Homo sapiens: one gene and its partner. The protein of the gene in region 2 purifies or fractionates together with the protein of the main gene of each other region. This does not show direct contact. Each region holds a gene or a part of one and is shown on either strand. Other genes may lie near its edges.

What was found.
Region 1: the proteins of POTEC (region 2) and HMMR purify together in Homo sapiens (affinity purification with mass spectrometry; 2 studies listed by BioGRID and IntAct, with this or other methods). This does not show direct contact.

What each region holds. Positions count from the first base shown.
Region 1 is NC_000005.10:163,477,614-163,484,646, reverse strand, and holds part of HMMR (hyaluronan mediated motility receptor), read right to left. Parts: intron 5,964-7,033; coding exon 5,847-5,963; intron 2,044-5,846; exon of another isoform or gene 2,006-2,043; coding exon 1,859-2,005; exon of another isoform or gene 1,628-1,858; coding exon 1,475-1,627; exon of another isoform or gene 1,380-1,474; coding exon 1,280-1,379; intron 579-1,279; coding exon 402-578; intron 1-401. UniProt on the Homo sapiens protein: Receptor for hyaluronic acid (HA). Involved in cell motility. When hyaluronan binds to HMMR, the phosphorylation of a number of proteins, including PTK2/FAK1 occurs.
Region 2 is NC_000018.10:14,506,813-14,512,607, forward strand, and holds the end of POTEC (POTE ankyrin domain family member C), read right to left. Parts: intron 5,182-5,795; coding exon 5,086-5,181; 3' UTR 527-5,085; downstream 1-526.

The DNA.
Region 1 (7,033 bases), on a different chromosome or scaffold from region 2:
TGTCCACTTTCAATGGGTGGATTGTATGGGTTGTCAATTATATCTCAATACATATGTTAAAAAATTTAAATGCCCAAATATTTTTGAACACTGCTTCTCTTTATGGTTTTACATCAAGGAGTTTGCAGTTTTGCAAATGGAAATAGATATGTAAAGCTTAATGAATTCATCCAATTACTCAAGTAATTTTCAATATATTAAGAAGGTAGCTAGAAAACTTTAGAACATTGAATGCCCATCTGGTCAACACTCTAAAATAAATCCACTAAATCACAGCTCAATTTTCCTCTATAAACAGTTATTTTTTTCTGATACCAAAGATATTCATTTTATTTAAGTATTATAGTTAGAATAACCCCCACTCCAATATCTTTAATAAAATGAAAAGTCATTTTACAAACCGATTTGAGTTGGCTATTTTCATCTTTCAACTTCACAACATGCTTGATTTTTTGTTTCAAATTCTGATGACCCAATAATTTAGCATATGAATCTCTTATTTTATTTAGCTGTTCCTGAGCTGCACCATGTTCATTCAACAATGCCTGTTTTTCTACTTCAAAAGCATCTAGTTGTAGCTGAAAAAGATTTTTTAAATAAAGTTAAGACTTAAAACAGTTTGATCTTACTAGTTTCATATAAACCATAAACACTAAAGAAAATTAAAAACACAAATGAAAACAAGGTATGTTCACATATTCTCAGGGCTCTCCATAGATTCTCTATGAGAATCTTTTAAACTTTGTATTTTTCATTTTAAAGATCATTAAAACAGAGGAAAAGAAACAAGGTAAAAAAGCCAGCTGGCCAGTTTTATCTGTATCAGTTAGATTACCACATTATAACCAATACTGTACTTCTAAGTTCCAAAATCAGCATTTATTCTTTTTTCTTTTAAAAGATCAGTATATTGAGAAACAATGAGTATTTGCAATAAGTCATACCACAAATTAAAATAGGTTAATTATCAAAAGCTCATACCAGGCAAGCCCTCTGAGCCAAACTTTTAAGTTCCACATTACAAAGTTTTTTTTTAAACCACAAAGGGTCCATTGAAAAAATTATGTCAATTAAATTTGTCAATTATACTTCAATAATGTGGGAAAAAATTATGCATAATTTAATAAAATGTATAAACCTTTAATAGTGAGCTAAATTGGCACTGTAAGTGCAGAGCAAAATGATCTTGCAGAAAACCCGAGTCACTGTCCTCACTATAATAGGGAACAAAGTGAGTCCCTAAAATAAACACAAGTAAGTTTACTCCTAACTGACAAACCTGAAAAGGTTTTGTTTTATTATATAGTTCTTCATAGAGGAGACGCCACTTGTTAATTTCTTCAGTTAATTCTGCTGTTGTATTTTCTTTTTCAGCTTTTCTGCATGGAAGAATTAAATTGAGAAAAACATAGTTATTTAAAAAATCACATCGTAACTGAGTTAACAAGGCACTCAGGTTCTAATCATAGATTACCTTCCTTCTTCATCTTCCAGCTGTTTTCTAAAGTCTTCCTCCTGTTGCTTGAGTTGGTTCTGCAAATCAGTTATTTTTTGAAGAAAAGAAACTGTGATTTCTTTAATTTCTGTTTCCTTTAGTGCTGACTTGGTCTGCAGATCTAGAAGCATCCTTTGGTTTGAGAGAGAAGAGGTCACTAAACATTTTATAGCCACTTTCATTAATTTTTCCTTTTTTTTTCTTTAAACCTCAAGGAACTCTTCAAGAAGTGTCATTTTTTAACTGAGTAAATTCTTAATTTGCAGTATAAGATGGCCAAAAGCAAGCCAAGGGACAGTTACTAGCTGGCTTTCAACATTAAATTGTCTTAATGGTTCTAAGGCCATTATTTGCTCTATATACCTTACATATTCTTGATTTGAGCTCTCAGTTGCCAAAATCTGATGCTGAACATCCTCTGCATTTTTCCCAGCCTTGGCCGCTTTTTCCTGTAATGATGAGTTCTCCAGCTTAAGATCTTCTATCTCACTGGCTGTTAACGCTTTATAGCTTATTAAAAAGAAAAAAAAGTCAAAGTAGTTTTCTAACTATTGCGTATGACAATCATAACTGATTAGTTTACACTTTATATACTTCTAAGTAAAACTAAAAAGTTTTTAATGTATTCATGCATTTAACACAGGTAAGAATTCAGTGTTCTGAGGCAAGTACTAATGAGTTTACATGGCATCTGCTGTGTATTCAAAGAAAAAAAAATCAAGTGCCTACTAGGTGCAGGAAGTATGCATACAGAGATGGAAAAGAAATCAACTACCAAGCATGAAAATTACTCACAATTTAAAAAATAAGAAGTGAGACTAGAGCCTAATGAGTAAGAAAGGCTGGAGCAGAAGCTGGTGGCATGAGGGTCATCACCGCAGGGCACAGTGGGCTTACCTGGCGGACAGACGGGAACCATTAAAGGTGTCCAAGTAGGCTGGGCGTGGTGGCTCATGCCTGTAATCCCAGCACTCTGGGAGGCCGAGACGGGTGGATCACCTGAGGTCAGGAGTTCGAGACCAGCATGACCAACATGGTGAAACCCCATCACTACTAAAAACACAAAAAATTAGCCAAGCGTGGTGGTGGACACCTGTAATCTCAGCTACTCGGGAGGCTGAGGCAGGAGAATCACTTGAACCTGGGAGGGGGAGGTTGCAGTGACCTGAGATAGTGCCATTGCACTCCAGCCTGGGCAACAAGAGCGAAACTCCGACTCAAAATAAACAAATAAATAAAATAAAAAGGTGTTTAATTAAATGTGTAGCTCACTCTAGAGCTATGAGGAAGATGGATTAGGGCAGGGGAAAAGAATGGAAAATTGAAGGATCAACTCCAAAACAATTATTTATCAGCCCAGGTGAGTGATAAAGGAGGCTTAGACTAAGGAGCTGGCAATGGAAAGACACAAGATCTCTTTTGGAAGCAGAGTAGGAAAATTCAAGAGATAGACTGAATATTGGGGGTAAGGAAGAGAGAATGATGAAGGATGACTCTAAGATTTACAGAATGAAAAGCTGGGAAGATGATGTCACTGATTACAATAAAAACAATGAGAGACTAGGGGTAGAAAGCAATGGAAGGATCAAGAGTTGGTTTGGACAGGTTAATATTAAAAGACAGTGTGATATCTACTTGAAGATGTCAAGTGGGTAACTGGATATGTGAATATGGAGCTGTAAAGAAAGGTCTGGTTTGATGAAATAAATTTTAATGCCACGAGTATATGGATAGTGACTAAAATCACAGAATAGATAAAAACCCCCTGAAGCACTATTCTTCAAACTAACGAGAAGGGAAATTCCTTTACAGGATTGATATTAGCAATAAATATATATATATAAAATTTACATATATTTATATGATTTATATGTTCTGATACAATAAAAATTATAAATAAAACATATACACTTATAAATTATTTATCTATGTGTCTGTCATAATGTATCACATGTGGGAACAGATCACTGGGGAAACAAGGTACAATTTAATGAATTAAATTAAACTAGGCAGTTGGTTGTCCATAGGGAAAACAAAAAATGAATTTGATCCCTATATTGCTACACACACAGAAATCAGTTCTAGGTGGAAAAATGGAAAGTGAAATTTTAAGACTTTTAGAAGAAAACTGGTTGAATATCTTTACACCTTGAGATAGAAAGAAGTTCTTAAATGAGAAGCAAAAGTACCCACATACAGATAAATATTTTAACCATATTGAAATCAAGAATTTCCACTCATCAGAAGAAACCAAAAAGAAAATAAAAAAATAAGCTAAACTGGCAGAAGATACCTGTAACCCATATGGCTGATAAAGAAAACCTCTACAAATCAATGAGGAAAAGATGATAACCCTATAGACAAATAAACAAAAGTCATAAACAAGCATTTTATGGAAAAGGAAAGATGAATTATCCACAATAAGAAGCCATTTTACACTAAGTACACTGGCAAAGTTTAAGAAGTCTAACAAGCTTTGGCAAAGAAGATAAATGGAAACTTATACAACACTAGTGGGAGTGTAGATTCTTACTCCCACATTGGAAAGTGATTTGATATTAAGTTTTAGAGTTGAACATTCATATACCTTTGGCTTTAGAGAAATTCTTACATACATGTATTCTTATAGTCACAAAATAACTAATAATAACTAACCAAATGGGAAACAACTCAAAGTCCAAAGAATGAATAAATAAGTTGTGGTATATTCATACAATAAAATACTCATAGCAGTGACTATCAACAAACCATAGCCTCAGACAACACAATTCAATCCTGAAAACACACATAATGCAGAATGAAAAAATAAGTCCCAGGAAACGGCATATACTATGATGACATTTTTTGGTAAAGTTCAAGGAGAAGGAAAATTACATAATGCATTATTTGTATGGATATACGTGTCATAAAATTATAATACACAGGGGGGAAAAAGCAAGGAAATAATTAGTGTAGACTTCAGGACAGTGTTATCTGTCCCATTTTCATGGGATGGCAGAGGAACTTACATATGGATACTAAGTTGTTGAAAATCTTTTGGCTTACTGGTTGTCTTTTATAGGTTCATGCATGTCAGTTTTATCTTCAAGCTCTACAGTTTATGTACATGTTATGCATTCTTTTGTATTTATTAAATAAAAGAAAGGAAACTCTCCCCCAAAATGAGCTAAAGTAAATGTGATAAATAAAAATGTTAACATTAATATATAGGTATTCATTATATTGGCCTTTGTAATTTGTAGTTCCACCCAAAATAAACTTTTTATTTAAGGAGAAAATAAGTAGAAGGCATGGGAGGTGAGGAAGTGGATATAGAGACAATCTTCTCTGTCAAGAGAAGAAAAAGGAGGAGAAGGAAAAGGACTGAAAAGGAGTAGAATTTGGGGTTAAGAAGGGAATGACTGGTGGTGTGAGACAGCTACAAAAGGAAGTTAGGGTCAGAGAAGTATTTAAAACAACTTATGTATTTTATTTATTTTTCGTTTGTTTTTGAGACAGTCTTGCTCTGTCACCCAGGCTGGAGCGCAGTGGTGTGATCTTAGCTCAGTGCAGCCTGGAACTCCTGGGCTCAGGTGATCCTCCTGCCCTCAGCCTCCCAAGTAGCATGTGCCACAATGCCTGGCTAATTCTTAATATTTTTTTTTGTAGAAACAAGGTCTTACTCTATTGCCCAGGCTGGTCTCAAACTCCTGACCTCAAGCAATCCTCCTGCCTTGGTCTCCCAAAGCACTGGGATTACTGGTATGAGCCACAGTGGCCAGCTAATTAATATATTTTACAGACAGATGTACATTAACATGTTTTAATATTGATTGGAAAAATTCCAGTAAAAAGGTTTCAAATTATGAGAAAACAAAATGATAGAATGAGGTCACTGAAGATTAAAAGACTAGGACATTTCATCTGTAATAGGTGGGAAGATAGGATGAGTATAAATGTGGGTCTCTTTATAGGTTTAGCAAGAGATAAAAACTTCTGAATTCTTTATGAAAATGATAACATCAAGAGAGTAGGGCAGAAGCACCAAATGCTTCTAAGTACATGACTTGATCCTCCCACCTCAGCTTATGCAGTGGCTAGGACTACAGGCATATGCTGCCGCACCTGGCTCAGCACATAAAAGTTGAAGTGGATGGTGAGAAAGGGGAATTTCTATAAATTATAAAGGGGAATTATATAAATACAATAAGATTACCAGATAATGCTAAATGCCCACTTACGGTTGGTGATTATGGAATTTAAACTAGTATGAATCATCCTTTGTGTGACTGCTTTGCTCACATATTTCCTGGGGTAAACACCCCTTTCTGCACACATCATATTTAAGAGTGCAGGCTCCCAAGAAAAATACCTTTCAAATTGAGCAGTAACATCTTCAAGGCTTTGCACCATACTGTCATACTTTTCCTGCAAAAGCAGGGTGGCCTGGGTATGAGCAGCACTACTTTTCTCCAGTTCAGCCTCCTTCCTAAGAAAAAGAAATAATTGAAAGATAAAATGCCACCTACAATTACTACCCTAAGAAAGAAAATAGTATTTACCTTTGAAACTGTGAATCATATAGCTCATATCTTCACCACTGCATTACCTGCTAAATAGCTCAGATCCTAATTTATGACTTACCTCGAAAGCATGTTTTTTATGCATTTTTCTACTAGCTTCAACTTATCTTTCCTGCTTATTTTACTTTAAAAATTTGGGTGAAGAAGGTAGTAGGATATAAAAGACTATAAAACCAAATCTTAAGATACTAGCCAGGACTAAAGACTGCAAAAGATTACCAGTCAAAAAACATCTGGATTGAATAAAGTTTCATTCTCTCCATTTAGACACTTGAGAAATACCATGAACAATTAAAGCCACTTCATTTTAAACTACAGAGTTACAAGACTTTGTGGATTTATTCTGATTATATGAATAACCCACATAATACTCTATTACTGAAAGACTTAATAACTTCTTTAATGGATTATTTTGCATAGACAGAATGGGTTTTAAGTCATTTTTATATACATATGCTATTAAATCTCAGGGATATTTTGGAAATAATATATTTCCAAAGTGGTGATAAAATTTTTAGATATGCATATGAGCTTATGAGAGATCTTTTAAAGAATATACAGAACTAAAAATTGTAAATAAGCATTGTGTACTTATAGACTAAGTTGGACACTGAGATAAGAAAAATAGCTGATCAAATTCATTCTGTAACAAGTGCCGGATTTCAAAAATATACACACCACAGCAAGAGCAATCAAATATGACTAAAGAGTTTATAATAAAAATATTTTCTTCCCTGTCCCCTAGAGGAATTATTTTCAATTCTTAGTTTGTTTTTCTCTTAAGCTTGAAATTTCCAGGCTAGAAGGGATCTTAGAGACCATCTAATAAAACTCTTTTATATCTAATGAAGTAGAAGATCAAAGAAACTAAGATTGTTTTGCTCAGAATCAACCAGCTAGCTAACAGAATTAGTAATAAAAATCCTTATCTCTTGACCATTGGACCACAGTTTTTTGAGTTGGAATAAAAAATTAT
Region 2 (5,795 bases):
AATAAGTAAAACTTCAGAAAAGGAGTTGTATGGCAATCAATCTTAGATATCAACCAAATTTTGGGAGATCAGGGATTCTCTGCAGGGGAGAAGCTCCCTAACCTCAGCACATTATCCTATTGGTTTGGGCAATAAAGATAGCCCAGGTTGGTATCAAGCAATAATGAGATTTATCAAAGGTCAGGACCACCTTTGTAATCTCCTTCTCTGTGTTTTTTTTTTTTTTTTTTTTTTTTTTGAGACGGAGTCTCACTGTCTCTCCCGGGCTGCAGTGCAGTGGCACGACCTTGGCTCACTGCAAGCTCCACCTCCCAGGTTCACACCATTCTCCTGCCTCAGCCTCCCAAGTAGCTGGGACTACAGGCACCCGCCACCATGCCCAGCTAATTTTTTGTATTTTTTGTAGAGACGGGGTTTCACCGTGTTAGCCAGGATGGTCTTGATCTCCTGACCTTGTGATCCATCCATCTCAGCCTCCGAAAGTGCTGGGATTACAGGCGTGAACCACCGCGCCCAGCCCTCTGTCTTTTTTTTTTTTTAAATCTTTATTGGTATAGTCTGTTTTGTCAGAAACTAGGAGTGCAACACCTGCTTTTTTCTGTTTTCCATTTCCTTGAAATATTTTTCTCCATTCCTTTATTTTGAGCCTATGTATGGCACTGCATGTGAGATGGGTTTCTTGAAGACGGCATACTCCAATGGGTCTTGGTTCTTTATCCAGCTTGCCCCCTGTGTCTTTCAATTGGAGCATTTAGCCCATTTCCATTTAAGGTTAGTAATGGTATGTGTGGATTTGATCCTGTCATCATGCTGTCAGCTGGCTCTTTTGCAGACTTATGTATGTGGTTGGTTTTTAGCATCACTTGTCTGTGTACTTCAGTGTGTTTTTGTAGTGGCTGGTGGTGGTCTTTTCTTTCCATATTTAGTGCTTCCTTCAGGAGCTCTTGTAAGGTAGGTCTGGTGATAACGAATTCCCTCAGCATTTGCTTGTCTGAAAACGATCTTGTTTCTCCTTCACTTATGATGCTTAATTTTGCTGGACATGAAATTCTGGGTTGAAATTTCTTTTCTTTGAAATGTTGAATGTCTTTTCTGGCTTGTACAGTTTCAGTTGAGAGGTCTGCTAAGTCTGATGGAATTCCCTTTGCAGGTGATGTTGCCTTTCTCCCTAGCTGCCTTTAACATTTTTTCTTTTATTTTGACCTCAGAGAATCTGATGATTATGTGTCTTGGGGATGATCTTCTCATGGCATATCTTACTGAGGTTCTCTGGATTTCCTGAAGTTGAATGTTGGCCTGTCTGGCTAGGTTGGGGACATTCTCATGAATGATATTCTGAAATGTGTTTTCCAAGTTGGTTCCATTCTCCTCATCTCTTTCAGGTACATTAATCAGTCATAGATTTGGTCGTTTATATAATCCCATATTTCTCGGATGTTTTGTTCATTCCCTTTCATTCTTTTTTCCCCCATTCTTGTTTGCCTGTTTTATTTCAGAAAGCCAGTTTTCAAGCTCTGGGATTCTTTCCTCTTCTTGGTCTATTCTGTTAGATGGTCTTGCACATGAGATGGAGCTGGTCTGACCTCAGCCCTCCCTAGTCTGCTTGCCTCTCCCAGGACCCCAGCCTGGCCACACCTGCTTACAGGGCACTCTCAGGTGCCCACACATACTACAATAATATTCATAATGCAATCACACACAATCACCATGTGACTACATTATGAAAATTCTTCTAGTGTGATTTACAGCTCTGTCAGGTCAGTTATTTTCTTCTTTATACTCACTATTTTGTCTGTTAGTTCCTGCAATGTTTTACAATGATTTTTAGCTTCCTTGTATTGGATTACAACATACTTCTTTCACTCAATGAACTTTGTTCCTACCCATATCCTGAACTCTGCTTGTATCATTTCAGACATCTCAGCCTCAGCCCAGTTCTGAACACTTGCTGGAGAGTTGATGCAGTCATTTGGAGAAAAGAAGGTATGCTGAATTTTTGAGTTTTCAGTGTTCTTGCACAGAGTCTTTTTCTCATCTTTATGGGCTTATCCATCTTCAATCTTTGAGGTTGCTGACCTTTGGACAGGGTATTTTTCCTTTATTATATCTGATGACCTTGAGGATTTGATTGTGGTGTAAGGTGGATTCAGCCAACAGGTTTTGTTTTTGGAGGATTTTAAGGGGCCAACATGCAGCTCCCAATTCTTGGACTGTGTGCTTTAACTCTGGGGAACTTGTATTGGGCCACAACTTTGTCCTCTGGCTCCTCGAGGTTTGGAGTCCACTGCACTGAGGGGACCAAAGTGCAGCAGCTGTGGCAGAATGCTAGCAGATGCAAAAGTCCCTGCCTCCCTGTGGGCATTCACCCAGTGGTGGAGGCAAAACAGCTGGGGTGTGGGCCACGGGCCCCTGCTGACTGTGTGTGCTGTTGCACTGGAGGTAGTGCTGGTTTGGGGTGGGTGGCTGGCCAGTGAAGGTGCCTTCTCTGATCCCCCCCAAGCAACAGTGGTCACTCAGGGTATAAGAAGGTCCCTTTTCCTCTGCACAGCATTACCTCAAGGGTGAGATGCTAGCAGGGGTGGGGTTTTTGGTTCTGTGCCCACCATGGCTTCATCTTCAGTGGCAGTTGGTGTGGGTTGGGGTGTGTGCTGCATTCCCATATGCTGTTAGGGCAAGTACAACAAAACCCACCTGTGTAAACACACACAGCAAAGTGATGTAGGAAGTTTCCATATAAAGGGCTGCAGTATGGAATGGTAATGTGCAGGCTAGTGCGTGGCTGTAGAGGTCACCTTGCTGCAGCTCTCCACTGATCAGGCACGGTCCGCTTGTACAGAAGCTATGGTGTGGGCACCCGAAAGTGCCCTCTAAGCAGGTGTGGCCTGGCTGGGGTCCTGGGAGAGGCAAGCAGACTAAGGGGTGCTGAGGTCAGACCAGCCCCATCTCATGTGCAAGACTGCCCAGCACAGATCAGGTCTCAGAGGAGAACTCTCTCAAAAGTGAATCCTCAGCACAGCACAACTGCTCTACACAAACGTGGCCAGACTTCTTTTTTAAGCAAGTCCCCTTTTTTACGAAGAGAACTCTTAGACCTGATCTGTGCTGGGCAATCTTGCACGTGAGATGGGGCTGGTCTGACCTCAGCACTCCTAAAGTGCTGGGATAAAGTGTCTCATAAGAGCAAGTGGAGCCTAGAGACATAGCTGTCCCTGCCCTCCAGGCTCCACATCAGCTGACTTGCTGCTCCACTACTTTCCTTGTCTCCTGGGGGCTCCACCCCAGAGAGGTGTAAGTTAGCAGTTACTTAATGTAATCACCCCAGGATGGAGGGTCTGTGTTGTGGGCCCAAGCCACGGTTCCTTGTCTGGTGATGAGCAGTAAGGGGTGTGTTGTACCTGTGGAAGATGGACTGACTTGTTCCTTGTGTCAACTGCAGCTTGTTGGAGGTGTCAATATGGCACTTAGGGTCTTTGCTCCCTTGATATTCTGAGGGTAGCAAGGGCAGTTCCACTGCAGAGGCAGTGGCAGAGAGGATTTCTGTTGCTCCTGGAAGCTCTGTCCAGGGAGTTGCTGAGTTGCTACTGGCTTGAAAGCTCAAGTGGGGGGCTGGCTGGAGACCCAGGCCAGGAAGACCTGCCCATCGAGGAGATATGGAAATGGGCACCCACATAACAGTCTGGCCACTTTTCTGTGGGGCTGCCGTGGTATGCTGGGGGTCCACTCCAGTCGCCAATTGCCTCGTATTTTCCAGTGGCTGAAGGTATCAGCAGTGAAGCCTGAGAAAAAGCAAAGACGATAGCCTGCCCTTCCCTCTGGGAGCTCTGTACCTCTGAGGTATGAACCTGTTGCCAATCTCAACACACCTGTAGGATGTGACTGGAAGCAAGTTGAGAAGTCTTGCCTAGTAAGGAGGAACAGGAATAGGGACTTGTTTAAAAAAGAAGTCTGGCCACGTTTTTGTAGAGTGGCTATGCTGTGTGGGGGGTTCACTTCAGCCCCTGGTCTCCTCAGACACTCTGAAACTCTAAGACTGAACTGGCTGAGTCATCCAAACAGCAAAGATGACAGTCTGGTCCTCCCCCTGGGAGCTCTGACTCAGGAGGCCTGAAACCTCTGTGAGCCAGAGAACAGCAGTGAAGGTGGCTGGAGACCCTGGTTGAAAGGCTCCACCCAGTGATTAGAAATGTGGTTGGGGACTGGCTTAAACAAGAATCTGGCCACGTTTTCGCAGGGTGGCTGTTCTGTGCTGAGGTACCACTTCCACCCCTGGTCAGCTTGGGCTCTCCAAAGCCCACAGGCCAGAAGGGCTAGTTGCCCAAACAACAAAGGTCATGGCCCACCCCTCTCTCTGGGAACTCTGTCCCAGGAAGGTTTCAAATCTCCATTGGCCAGGGAACACTGGTGGGTGTAGCTGGAGGCCTCAGGTGGGAGATCCTGTCCAGTGACGAGGAACAGGATCAGAGGCCTGCTTACAGAAGCATTCTGGACATGATTTGGTAAAGCAGCTGTGCTATGCCACAGGATCTCTTCTGCCCCTGGTGGGTTTGTACTCTCCAAAGCCCGCACGCTGGAATCGCTAAGTTGCCCAAACAGGAAAGATGGTGGCCTGCCTCATCTTTTCTCTCAGAATTTATCCTGTGTGATGGAGCTTAATTTTTAGGTTGTTAATTTTACTGTCAGCGTTAGAGTTGTTCAGAAAGAATCTCACTGTTATCTTTTAGGTGAGATATATGAGAATTCATTTTCTCCTGTAAATAAACCTGTTCATGTTTGTTCTCTGGAAAGAAGTCCCTTTCAGCTATCTGACTTTGATCACAATCATGTAGAGCAGTAGTCAGTCTACAATGACATGATTGAATTTCCATTTCCAGTGTTTCCTAGCTGTGTCTTACATTCTCCAGTTCAGAACTGAGCATTCTCAGTTGTCAAAATCCTAAGCTGTCCACTGTACTTAAATATTGGTTTTCGTTAATGCTTCTTCATTCAATTGCATAGCCCTTAGAAGTTTATCAGTCTTTTCTTTCACACTTTCAATTTCCTCCAAAATTTTATTTTCCCTTAGCTGGTTCTGATGTTTTGTTTCATCTAGTTCCAGTCTCCAGAAATTAGCATGGCAATTTCTTCCTGCAACATGCTGTTTTCACGCAAGAGATCTTCTTCTTTCTTATGACTAAGAGAAAGCTAAGTAAACAAAGGGAACTTTTAGTTAGCACTCAATAGAATGACATATCATGATTTCTTCTAAAATTAAAGAATGACATTTATATTTGTATAATGAAATAATTCCCATAGTGGATATTTAACTGGAAAAAAGTTGGACAAAACTTCAAATCTAAAAGAGTGTAAATTCCAAAAAGTTGAAATATTTATCTAAAGACCATGAAAAATAAATCACTAGAGGATTTTTAAGAATTTCAGAATTGGAAAAGCCTTTCTCTGAATTACAAAAAACCCAGAGGCATAAAATAGAAGATTAATACATTTGGCTACATTTTTTAAATTGGGTTTACACTCTGATATCTAACCTATAAACCACACCATCATAAGAGCCTTAGCTATGCGTATATTAGGACAGAAGCAATTCCTCAAAGTTCTTTAAGTTCCTTTTTCTGAGGAATGTTTTATCAATATACTGCTGTCCTAATATTTTTACAGTCAGTTGTAAGCATTACATTTATTCATAACTGTTAAATCTAAGCATTGTACCCTTCTACAATGTACACATCTGCGTCTAAGCATTGCACTTCTACCTACAACACTCAACTCATTTAGGATCACGATTCTTAAAAGGAGAG